Linked DNA regions of Homo sapiens. The protein of the gene in region 2 purifies or fractionates together with the protein of the main gene of each other region. This does not show direct contact. Each region holds a gene or a part of one and is shown on either strand. Other genes may lie near its edges.

Region 1 (3,653 bases), on a different chromosome or scaffold from region 2:
TACTATTCAGCAAAAGAGTCTACATTTCATTTGGATTTCTGCTAAAAGTCTTTGGAGTTTAAAATTTCAACAATGAAGTTTTTTCTTCACTCATATACTTACATTCATTGAATCAAGATGTCCTTTAATTTCCACAACAGGCACCTTGTGGTACCAAGATGCAGCTAGATTCCGATTTACAAGAAATTCCAAGTTAATTGGGTGCAACAGCTGAATATCAGGATGGTAGATGCCTGGCTGGATCACTGTCCTACGAAAAACAGAAATGTTACATAATGCATAGATATAGGGTAGAAATGCAACATATTAAAAAAAAGCAAAGTCAAGCAGTTATTTGCTGCTCTAAATACTGATCTGAAACAGTGTGGCTTGAGTATTTTCAAAACTGAACCTATAATTAATCTATAATCCACTAGAAGGGACAAATTAAAAGGTGATATACAATGAACCATTAAGAAAACTTTTTTCTTTAAACAGTAGATAGGTGAAAAATTGAATAAGTTTTTAAAAGCAATCCACACCATTGAAGAAATACAGAAAATCATCATATACAGTTGTTCAAGGATTAATAGGTATGTTGGTGCAGAGACTGAAGAAAATGATGGCAAAGTGAACAAGAGGAGTTAGCATTTTCCAAGGCATTTCATAAAGGTTTTCTCTAGGATTATTTTCTAGACTTGCCTTGTAGTCATTAATTTTTTATTCTACATAATTAAATCTTCATGGATGGGGTAGAAAATAATTTTAAAATGAATTATGTACAGATTTCATGTGCCACCTGGTATGAGCACTGAAGATACAAAATAATTTACACAACATGCCTGCCAAAAATGTGTAAGTTCAATCAAACCATGAGGAATCACTCAGACACAACCAAATTGAGAGGTGAGTGGAACCGGACTGTAGTCTTCAAAACTACAGTAGTAGTCATGTAGTCATAAAAAGACAAAGAAAAGCTGAAGAACTACTCCAAAATAAATTTCTGTCAGTACAGAAATCTTCCTCAATAGTACAGAATACAATTATACGCTATGGGTGATCCTGAATCAGGGAGAAATTTTTATAATGGACATTCCTATAATGCGAATTATTATAATGGGACAACTGGTAAAATCTGAATATTGACTGAATTTCAGATTATAGTATTACATCGATATTAAATTTCTAGAATTATATCATAGTTAATATAAGAGAATGAATGTCCTTGTTTATAGGAGACATATGATAAAGTATTTAGGGACAAAAAGTTAAAGATGTCTATTCTCAAATGATTTAGCAAAAAATGTTTTAAATAATATGTATATGTTTATAGATAGGTTAAAGCAAATATAAACAACTGGTGAATCTAGATGAAGGATATGTAGGTGCATTCACAGTACTATTTTTTTCCATTTTTCTGTAGGTCTGAAATTTTTTAAAACAAAAGTTGATTAAAAAACTGTTCTGGTGGCCTGGTGCGATGGCTCATGCCTGTAATCTCAGCACTTTGGGAGGCCAAGATGGGCAGAACACCTGATATCAGGAGTTTGAGACTAGCCTGGCCAACATGGTGAAACCCCATCTCTATAACGAAAAATACAAAAAAATTAGCCAGGCATGATGGCACGTGCCTATAGTCCCAGTTACTCAGGAGGCTGAGGCAGGAGAATCACTTGAATCCAGGATGCAGAAGTTGCAGTGAGCCAAGACTGCACCATTGCACTCCAGCCTGGGCGACAGAGCAAGACTTCATCTCAAAACACAAAATAAAAAACTCTTCTGGGCCAGGCGCGGTGGCTCACACCTGTAATCCCAGCACTTTGGGGGTCCAAAGCAGGTGGATCACCTGAGGTGAGGAGTTTGAGACCAGCCTGGCCAACATGGTGAAACCCCATTTCTATTAAAAATACAAAAAAAATTAGCCAGGCATGGTAGCACATGTCTATAGTCCCAGCTACTCGGGAGGCTGAGGCAGGAGGATTGCTTGAACCCAGGAGGCAGAGGTTGCAGTGAGCCGAGATCACGCCACTGCACTCCATCCTGGGTGACAGACCAAGACTCCAACTCAAAACACACACACACACACACACACACACACACACACACACACACACACACAAAACAATGACAACAATAAAAAAAACTGTTCCGTGTAATGGAACAGTTTATTTGAATAAACTGTGTTGGGTAGGAATTTCAAGTCATAAAATTTCATGGAAATCATGAATATAATATTTAAATCCATAATTATTGAAAGAGCATACCTATAAAGTGTAAGCTTTGTTAGCTGCACATCCATTCTATCAATTACTGGAGGATTTAAGTAGTCTTCATCAGACACCAGACTGAACTGATTATGAACTCTGATTAACCCAAGATCTACCACTACTGCATTGGTGGAAATAGAAGACTGTGGGATGACTATAACCGGTGCTTTCAAATCAATATTGATGGAAACACGAAAACTCCTCTGGGCAAGATCTTTCACACTTGTGGCAGCCCTTTCTGCAGCCTGGGCAGTGGCAGCACTCAGAGACTCTTTGGCTGTCTGGAAATTATTCAGGAAGTTCTGTGGACACAAAGCATAAAAAGAGAAATTCAAAGAGAATACAGGCACATCAATAATAACACTATCTTCTTTTCATACATGTGGTAACTTTTTTTTTCCAATATTTAACTTTCCATTGAGCCCTATTTTTCTAGCAGTATTAAGAAATTACGGATAATCCATCTATAACTATGAGCTGCCTGAACTGAGCTAATGTTATATGGTTAAGGAACAGAGAAAAATTTTTTTCCAATAATTTTTATACTAAAGAATCTGGCTTCATTATATTGTAGCAAAAATAATTTGTTCTAGACAAAAATCATTAAATGATTCACTTTTCAACTGTTAAATAGGGGTTTTGATCTCTACATTCACGCATAAATATAATTAAAATAATGCCCACTCTAAAATCCAAGGTTTATAACATTTGCCATCATAATTATCACACTTTTAAAATATTTCAAAGTTGAAAAATCAATATACAAATAATTATTTTACCAGAAGTGACATAAGGAATTTATGAAGATAGACAATCTGAATACAGCCAACATTCAGAGACAGCACACCATCCACTTTGGACATGTCAGTATACAAATCCCCCTCAGTAGCATCTGGATACAAATCCAAATTAAAACGGAAAACTTCATTTCCCATTATTGACACAGCCTGAAAAACAGAGACTTGAATGTACTCTATCCGGGAAGGTAATGACAAAATAAAATCTCATTTACAAAAGGCTTTACATTTATAATCTTTATAAAAAAATTTTTCTATTGAAATATATTTCATTAATGTTTTTAAAATAAAATACATTTTACAATAGAAGCTCATATTCAGTCATTAAAGAATATTAACTATCTGTTTACAATCACCTACTTTCTTATGAACTGTCTTTGGATCAACATCTGTGACAATAATATTTTCTAGTCGGGCAAAAAGTGACTGCTTTCTTGACTGGAGAGAAAGGGAGGAATCCAGTCCTGAAAAAAAGAGTGTATTATTATAATTTCTACAGACCTACCATAAATAAGATCTTTCTTTCCATTACATTATTTTATTTTGGGGTGACTTTTTTAAATTTAGCAATGTTTCAACTCCCAATGGATAAATAAGTTGCAATATTAGA
Region 2 (4,171 bases):
AGAAGTGAGATCTATCCAAAAGTGGTTTTCAATTGTGCAAGACCATGGCATGAGAGTTTAAGAAACTTTGGGCTGAGATTTCAAGGACCTGAGACATATCTACTGTTGAATATTTGGTAATCATTAAGCATACAATTTTGCAGATGTTAAATGTTAAGTTAAACATGTTTAATTTTTTTTAAGTAAAATAAATCATTTCTGTTTCTATTCAGAATATGACAGTATCAGAATAACAGGAGCTAACCCTAACTGAACACTTAAAGTTTGCCAGGCACTATTCTGAATTCTTCACAAAAATTAGCAGTTTTACTCTGCACAAAAATCGCCTGAGATACGTTGCTTTGCTGATGAAGAAATGGAAATCCAGAGAAATAAAGTCGCTTACTCAGTCACCCAGCTACATGATTTGTGGCTCTGGAAGTTCAGCTACTAGGACTCTTCCAACTTCCTACAGGTGTCACGAAAGCACAAGACCACACACTTACACACAGTTCTGATGAAAGAGGGCTAAAAGGAAGATTTCAGTAAAAAGGTCAACAAGGCTTTCTAAAAAAACTGTAAAGGTAAATAAATGATGTGTCGCAGTAATTCTCACCAATTAGGAAGCATCTTAGAAAAGCATTGGATTTCCTCTAGTTAAAAACATCTATAAAAAGTGATATCAAAATATAGGAAGATGTAAATATCTAAATTTTAACACTGTCACCTTGCATAAATTAGGCTGAATAGCTGATGGAATAAGACCTAAATTCAATTTTGTTCCATGCCTTTTTACTGTGATCTGAAAGGGGTCTTGAGGTGAATGATCCTGTACTCATCCTCCACCAGCCAATCAGTCTGTTTATTATTTGGCTTTAAAAAGAAACCCCTTCACCATGATGGAGCAAAAACTGTTACTTGGCTATGTCAAGAGAAAGCAATGCAACAAGTACAAAGCGTGCTGATTAATGCACCTTGTCTATCTCTATCAGACAGAGAGCTAGATATTGATAGAGACTGCTATCCTCATGTGTAACTACATCAAGCTAGAGAGACTGTTATAATACAAGTGGACTGAGGCAGCCGTGAGCAGAGAAACCAGGAATGCTCGCCCCGATCTCTAGTCTTCAGTCTTGGCCCTGTTTCAACTTTCAGTTTCACATGTGGAAAAATCGAAACTCTAACTCAGCTGAGTGTTAGTCAAAGAAGGTGTGTCCTGCTCCCCAATGACAGGTTGCTCAGAGACTGCTGATTTCCATCCCTATATAAAGAGAGTCCCTGGCATACAGAGACTGCTCTGCTCCAGGCATCTGCCACAATGTGGGTGCTTACACCTGCTGCTTTTGCTGGGAAGCTCTTGAGTGTGTTCAGGCAACCTCTGAGCTCTCTGTGGAGGAGCCTGGTCCCGCTGTTCTGCTGGCTGAGGGCAACCTTCTGGCTGCTAGCTACCAAGAGGAGAAAGCAGCAGCTGGTCCTGAGAGGGCCAGATGAGACCAAAGAGGAGGAAGAGGACCCTCCTCTGCCCACCACCCCAACCAGCGTCAACTATCACTTCACTCGCCAGTGCAACTACAAATGCGGCTTCTGTTTCCACACAGCCAAAACATCCTTTGTGCTGCCCCTTGAGGAAGCAAAGAGAGGATTGCTTTTGCTTAAGGAAGCTGGTGAGTACATGGTCCTAGACAGAAATCAGGATTCTCAACCACTGGGCAGTGGGGTAAGGCGAGAAGGGGCTGGGGGTATGCACAAGCTGGAGAGCTTCTCCAAAGCTTGAGGTCACCATTTACCCTTGCATGGTGAGCATGTTGTCCTATGAGAAAATAATTCAGTGAATTTTGGAGTGGGCACCTAGTCCTTCCTAAATCACAGAATTGGGCTGGAACAGGGGATTTGTGGAGCAAACCTGTCCCTCCTGCCATTTGGAAGCAAGAAGGGGTCTATGCAAAGGGCAGGTCCCTATTACACTTGGTGTTTGGAAAGAGGCGGTTTGGGAAGTTTGTACTACTTTCTGAGTTTGCCCACAACACTAACGAATTTGGGTTTTCCAGAAACAGTTATTAATAATTAGAAAAGTTGGAAACAAAAACAAAAACTTTGACATAAAAATAGCAGTAGTTGAATCTTATATTTGAGTTTGTGTATATTCTTTTAATAGGAAACCTTAAAATTTTTTTAACAAATATGTCAAGGACTTAGCCTTCAAGAATGCTTACTGAGCATCACCACATTAGTAACTGGCAGCGTCTTGGAGAGAACTCAGCACGTGACCTTCGAATGCAATATCTTCCACTCCAGATCTGTTCTGCCTTCCGTCCTTGTCTTCCTGTCTTTCCTAGAGTACCTTCTCAACTAGTAACTTCAGCAACATCTCTAGCTTCTTTCCCTCCTTGTTTAACTTTTTAACAAAAGCATAGCATACATGCACCAGATTACACATATTCTGGATGTGCACCCTGATGAATTTCACAAAGCAATCACAGCCAGGTAAATAGCCTGCAGATTCAGAGAGAAAGCATCACCAGCGCCAGAAGTGCATGCTGCACTCCAGCCACTACCCTGGTAAGCACTTGCTGGACTTCTAACACACAGATTCATTTTGCCTGATCCTGTACTTTATATAAATGAAATCATACAGTGGGTCCTATATTGGATCTGACTTCTTTGCTCCACGTTACATTGGCTTAGTTACCCAAAGCTGATTGCTCAAATGAGAACCTGACTTCCCATTCCCAGTGTGGCTTAACTCAAATTCCTATCATTTCTCACCAGGATTACTGTAATTCAACTCACTGTCTCTGCTTGCCCCATTGAAAACTCCTGATCTTTTTTTAAAATGTACTTTTGGTGATTTAACTCCTAACTCTCCTTCTTATGAGCATCGTTGTCAAGGCCCCTGGCAAGCTCAATGTTGCTCTCAGCCTCTGCTACCCTGATGGCTTGGGTCCCCTCTGCTGTAGACACAGCCTGTCACACTCATTTTCTCCAAACATCAAAATTGTTAAAATGATGGTCATATTGTTGTCTCTTCCTAGAATGTCTGTCCTCAAATCTTGTTGGTGAACTTTCAAAGTTCCTTTGAATTCTCCTTGATCCTCTGCAGCCATAATTATGCCCTTTACTTTTCACTTATGAGCTTATAGCAGTTGGTACAAATATGTCTTGCAGCTTTTTAAAATGTACTATTTTGTTCAGTTTTTTTTTTTAATGTCTGGTTCCTCAAAGAAATTGCATTCCAAGGTTGAATTTTACCCTCCTGTGTGTCTTCATGCCTGACAGGATGTCTAGAAAGTAATAGAGGCTTAAGAAATGTTTTAGATAAATGAATGAATGCATGAGTGAGTGAATAAGGAGATATGTCGAGGGAAATTACGACTTTCATTCAGAAAGCCAGGGTTTGAGTTTCTGCTCTAACATTTACTAGATTTGTCAAGACATTTAGCTTTTCTGAGTATCAGTTCCATGATCTTTAAAATTATCTTTAGATAATAATGATAACTGATAAACCAATCTCAAAAGTTGGTACAAGGCACAAACAAGTGAATGTTCATGTATTTTTGTCATAAAAGATAAATTATTATTAATAGTTATAATTAATACTTTTATATAATAACCTCTCAGTTTAAGTAAGTAAAACAAAAGTTAATTGAAATGCTTACATGATAGTGTAGGTTGTATTTTCCTGTAAGAGAGATTTCTAGATAATGGAGGAAAACTATTTTTTTGGTTGTAAGAATTAAAGAAAGAGGAAAGAAACACAAAAGGTGGCTCCACAGTCAAGGACAGGTTTATTTTAGAGAAAAAAAACCTGAGAGGGGCTTCTGGCTGAGTTAAGTCAGAGCCCACTCTCTTACAGACTAAGAGTTTTAAGGATTTGGCGTGGGAGGGTTTATTAGAGACTTGGACTGCTTCTGTTTCTCTTTGTTGTGCTTATCTGGGAGGGAGAGTTGTGTGTCTGTTCCCGTACATCTTCCTGCAGCTGCAGGCATACCCACCCTGAATCTGCTTTTAGCTTCCCTATCTTAGAACACTAAAGAGAAACTAATGTGCTTATTTAGGCCCACTGTTTTACTGGGACCCATTGTATGACAGTGAAGTTTGGCAGTTACCTAAAAGACTTCCCCTCAACCTCCCTCTGTGCTCAAGCTGTCTTGTCTGTGTTTTACTGTCTGCTCTTTCTGGCTGCTTGTGGTTA
Region 3 (3,653 bases), on a different chromosome or scaffold from region 2:
GCTGAGTCGTGACAGCTCGCGCTGGCAGGAGAGACTGGTAACTGAGAGAGGAAGGTCTGCAGCACCCGCAAATACACCAGCAGCCCTTCCTCAGAGAGGGCCCCTTTGCAAAACAATCAGTTAAAACGTATTTTAGTTAAACATTATTTTTTAAAATGGAAAACGAAGACGCCATTTTTCCTCACACGCAGAGAGGCATTTCTGACCAGATCTTATTTTTAAAATTCTAACTGTGTTATAATAGGAAACATATTTAGATTTTGTCCCCGTTCATGTCAGAAAGCACCTACAACTCTTGTAATTTCTTGAAAGATAAAGAGTCTCTTGTTATTCATAGCCAGCCCTTTGTGATCATACTTGAGGTGACTTATGGTGAGGCCATCTAGGGGACTCAGAATGGGGCTTTTCACCAGAAAAACCAAGTGATCAGAGGGTTGGAACTTTCAGCCCCACGCACCAACTTCCAAGGGGCTGTCTGTGGGAGGGACACTGGAGAAGAAGCACCATAAAACTCAACAGGAAGACACAATGAGCTCAACACAGGGAGGTGCCGAGAGTGTGGAGTGCCTGGAGAAGGCATGGAAGCTCCCCATTCCCGCACACCTCGACTTCCCGAGTTCTGTGAACTGTCTTAGTCAATTACCAATCCCAAGGAGGGGCTGAGGAACCCCCATTTTTGCAGGTTGGTCAGAAGTATAGGTGACAACCTACTACTTGTAATCGGCCTCTGAAGTGGGTGTAGTCTTGCAGGACTAAGCCCTCAGATGATGGGATCTGACATTATCTCCGGGTGGACGGCATCAGAATTGAACTGAATTGTAGAATACCTAGTTGGTGTCCACTGAAGAATTGCTTGGTGTGTGGGAAAAAAAACCCCACATTTCTGCTCACAGAATTTTTCAGTGTTGAGTGAGAGAGTAAGAAAAACAGTTTGGGCTGGGCACAGGGGCTCAAGCCTGTAATCCCAGCACTGTGGGAAGCCGAGGCGGGTGGATCACGAGGTCAAGAGATTGAGACCATCCTGGCCAACATAGTGAAACCCCGTCTCTACTAAAAATACAAAAATTAGCTGGGTGTGGTGGCGTGCACCTGTAGTCCCAGCTACTCAGGAGGCTGAGGCAGGAGAATCACTTGAACCCGGGAGGCGGAGGTTGCAGTGAGCTGAGATGGAGCCACTGCACTCCAGCCTAGTGACAGAGCGAGACTCTATATACCCCCCCGCACCCAACCCCCAAAAGTTTGGTTTTCACATTTTCCTATATTTCTTTCATGAATAATTCATGCATGTATGTATGTATGTATGTTTTCAAACATACTACAGGAAGATGTTATTCTAGAAGAGGCACACTGGAAATTTAGCAGAGGGAGGGAAACAGGCCTGACTCACAGAAGAGCTTTCCCATTTAACTCTGTTAACTCTATTAAAATAATCTGTGTGGCCTCATAAGACACATATATATGTCAGTCTTTTCCACTGTATCTGGAAACTGTCCCCAGGAACACACTGCCCAGACCACATCCCTCCAGCAAATACACTCCTCCAGGAGAGGCCCACCTTTCCATAACACCTGCCACTGCATGGCCTTCTCTTGACTCATCTGCCAATGCTACCCATATGTGTGTTCAGGTAAAAAAGATCTTGTATTTCATACCCAAATAATTTTCGCCAACAGTTAAAACGAAATAGAAAAGCCAGGGTGCTCCACCACTCTTTCTTGAACATCTACTCTCTATTAACAACAGTGCATTCAGAAAGGGCTCGTAAGGGAAAACGGTCTGCGCATCTGCAAGCGCCGGAATGATGAAATGAAAAATCTGATCTGTAAAAGGTGCTGCCAGAAACTCCTCTGTGAAGGCTGTAAAAACTTGTTGCCTGAAAAAGAAAAACAGAAGCTTTTTATAAAATCAAATTATACTGTCCATCCAATCACTGATTAAAATCACCTTTCAAAATATCCTTCTAAAAGGATAATCTACTCTTCTAAATTAGCCAAGTTAACCATTTTAATATCAACTAGATCAACCTAAAGTAAACTTAATGTCTTCTCTATTAAGATAACTACCATGTTTTCGTTAATTTTTGACAGTTACTTAGAAAAGCAGGAAAATAACCATGTTATCAGAATCACAAATTTGTATTAGGCTACAGGCCAGAAAGAAAAAGTACACTTTCCTATAAACTAAATCAACACTAATAAAGTAAAAACCTGAATTTCAAGTCTATATTTAAAATCACATCCTATGTAAAAGTTACCATCAGATATAGATCTTGTGAAAGGACAAAATCAATAAATCCATTCCAGTCTCACCTCGCACCTTCCGGACAGGAGTTGTAAGTAAAGTGCAATGGTTTTAGAACATTCTCTAGCAAAATTTTTGCTATAGGAACTCGAGATAAATCAGAATATTCAATACTTGATGGAAGCTTGCTGTTAATCAACAAATATAGAGACCTATAATACCCTAAAAGGAAAAACACATATTTAAAATTTAGTGCCTTTTCCTGTAATAAGGGAAAAAACTTGCCAATTTTTAAATGCTTTTAACCATCTCTACAGGTCCAAACTTAAGTTAGTTCTTTAACATGCTAGCAAGGAAAACTAAACAAATATATAGGCAGCCGAACGGTATACAAACCTCATGTACCAACAACTGTCAACTACAGCCAATCTCATTTCACCTGTATACCACTCATTTGGAAGGAAGTCTAAGATATAATTATTTTAGTGTATCATTAAGAGACTATTTTTAAAAACATTATCACAGCTAAAATAAATGAAGAGTAGTTCCTTAACATCACAAATATCTAGTCAGTATTCAAGTCTCCAACTGTCTCATGTTAGAAATTCTATTTAACTAGTTTGCTTGCATCAGGAAGGAGCTCAATAAGGACCACATATTGTGATCTTATAATTTGTCTCTGATTTGTGCATTTTTTAAACACCGTGTTGAATTCATAGAGTTGAACATATTGGTAGGTTTCATTCCACTGTAGTCCTGACCTCATGCTGCTCCACCTGGGGCCCCGGGGTGGGCTTTAGGAGGCTCCTGAGCCCCAGGGTCACTGGCAGTCCTGCATCCCGCCCTACAATCAGCCTTTTCTCCAGAAACTCTTAAGCTCCTTTTAGAGGAGATGATGTATTTGGAGACCACAATCTGGGAACTGAAGAAGTTAACTGTTTAAAGGCAGCTTATACGTAAACTGAAACAACTTTCAGAACCTCTTAAAATATCCAGCCTACGCTTCTGATAGGAACTCTGGGTGGGAGGCAGTGAACATAACTCTGGGTATCAAGAATGATCCAAATCATATATTCTTTCAGAATCATTTACTCCATTTTTATAGAATAAGAAGGTTCAGGTGCAATTTTTGAGTATCTCATCATATACAAGCGTATTTGGTAGCACATTAAAAACAATCCATCTGCATGGGCTAGTTTTTGAAACAGTCCTACACAGCTTCGTATTTGAGTGAAGATCACCAAACAATGCATACTCAGTACTTTATCATTAGACCTACTTTGTAACTACCCCAAGTCTAACCTAGTGTATACTGATAACTAGTGAAACTCATATGAAAGCTTGAAAGCTCTTTTGCTATGAAACTAAAAAGATAAAAATACATCAAGAATTTTAAAAAATACACAGAGACT

The links.
Region 1: the proteins of RSAD2 (region 2) and VPS13C purify together in Homo sapiens (affinity purification with mass spectrometry; one large-scale study listed by BioGRID and IntAct). This does not show direct contact.
Region 3: the proteins of RSAD2 (region 2) and UBE3C purify together in Homo sapiens (affinity purification with mass spectrometry, with the first as the bait; one large-scale study listed by BioGRID). This does not show direct contact.

Annotation. Positions count from the first base shown.
Region 1 is NC_000015.10:61,959,346-61,962,998, forward strand, and holds part of VPS13C (intermembrane lipid transfer protein VPS13C), read right to left. Parts: intron 3,508-3,653; coding exon 3,404-3,507; intron 3,194-3,403; coding exon 3,026-3,193; intron 2,549-3,025; coding exon 2,244-2,548; intron 251-2,243; coding exon 103-250; intron 1-102. UniProt on the Homo sapiens protein: Mediates the transfer of lipids between membranes at organelle contact sites. Necessary for proper mitochondrial function and maintenance of mitochondrial transmembrane potential.
Region 2 is NC_000002.12:6,876,504-6,880,674, forward strand, and holds the start of RSAD2 (S-adenosylmethionine-dependent nucleotide dehydratase RSAD2), read left to right. Parts: upstream 1-1,273; 5' UTR 1,274-1,297; coding exon 1,298-1,643; intron 1,644-4,171.
Region 3 is NC_000007.14:157,180,328-157,183,980, reverse strand, and holds part of UBE3C (ubiquitin-protein ligase E3C), read right to left. Parts: intron 2,464-3,653; coding exon 2,310-2,463; intron 1,874-2,309; coding exon 1,653-1,873; intron 104-1,652; coding exon 1-103. UniProt on the Homo sapiens protein: E3 ubiquitin-protein ligase that specifically catalyzes 'Lys-29'- and 'Lys-48'-linked polyubiquitin chains.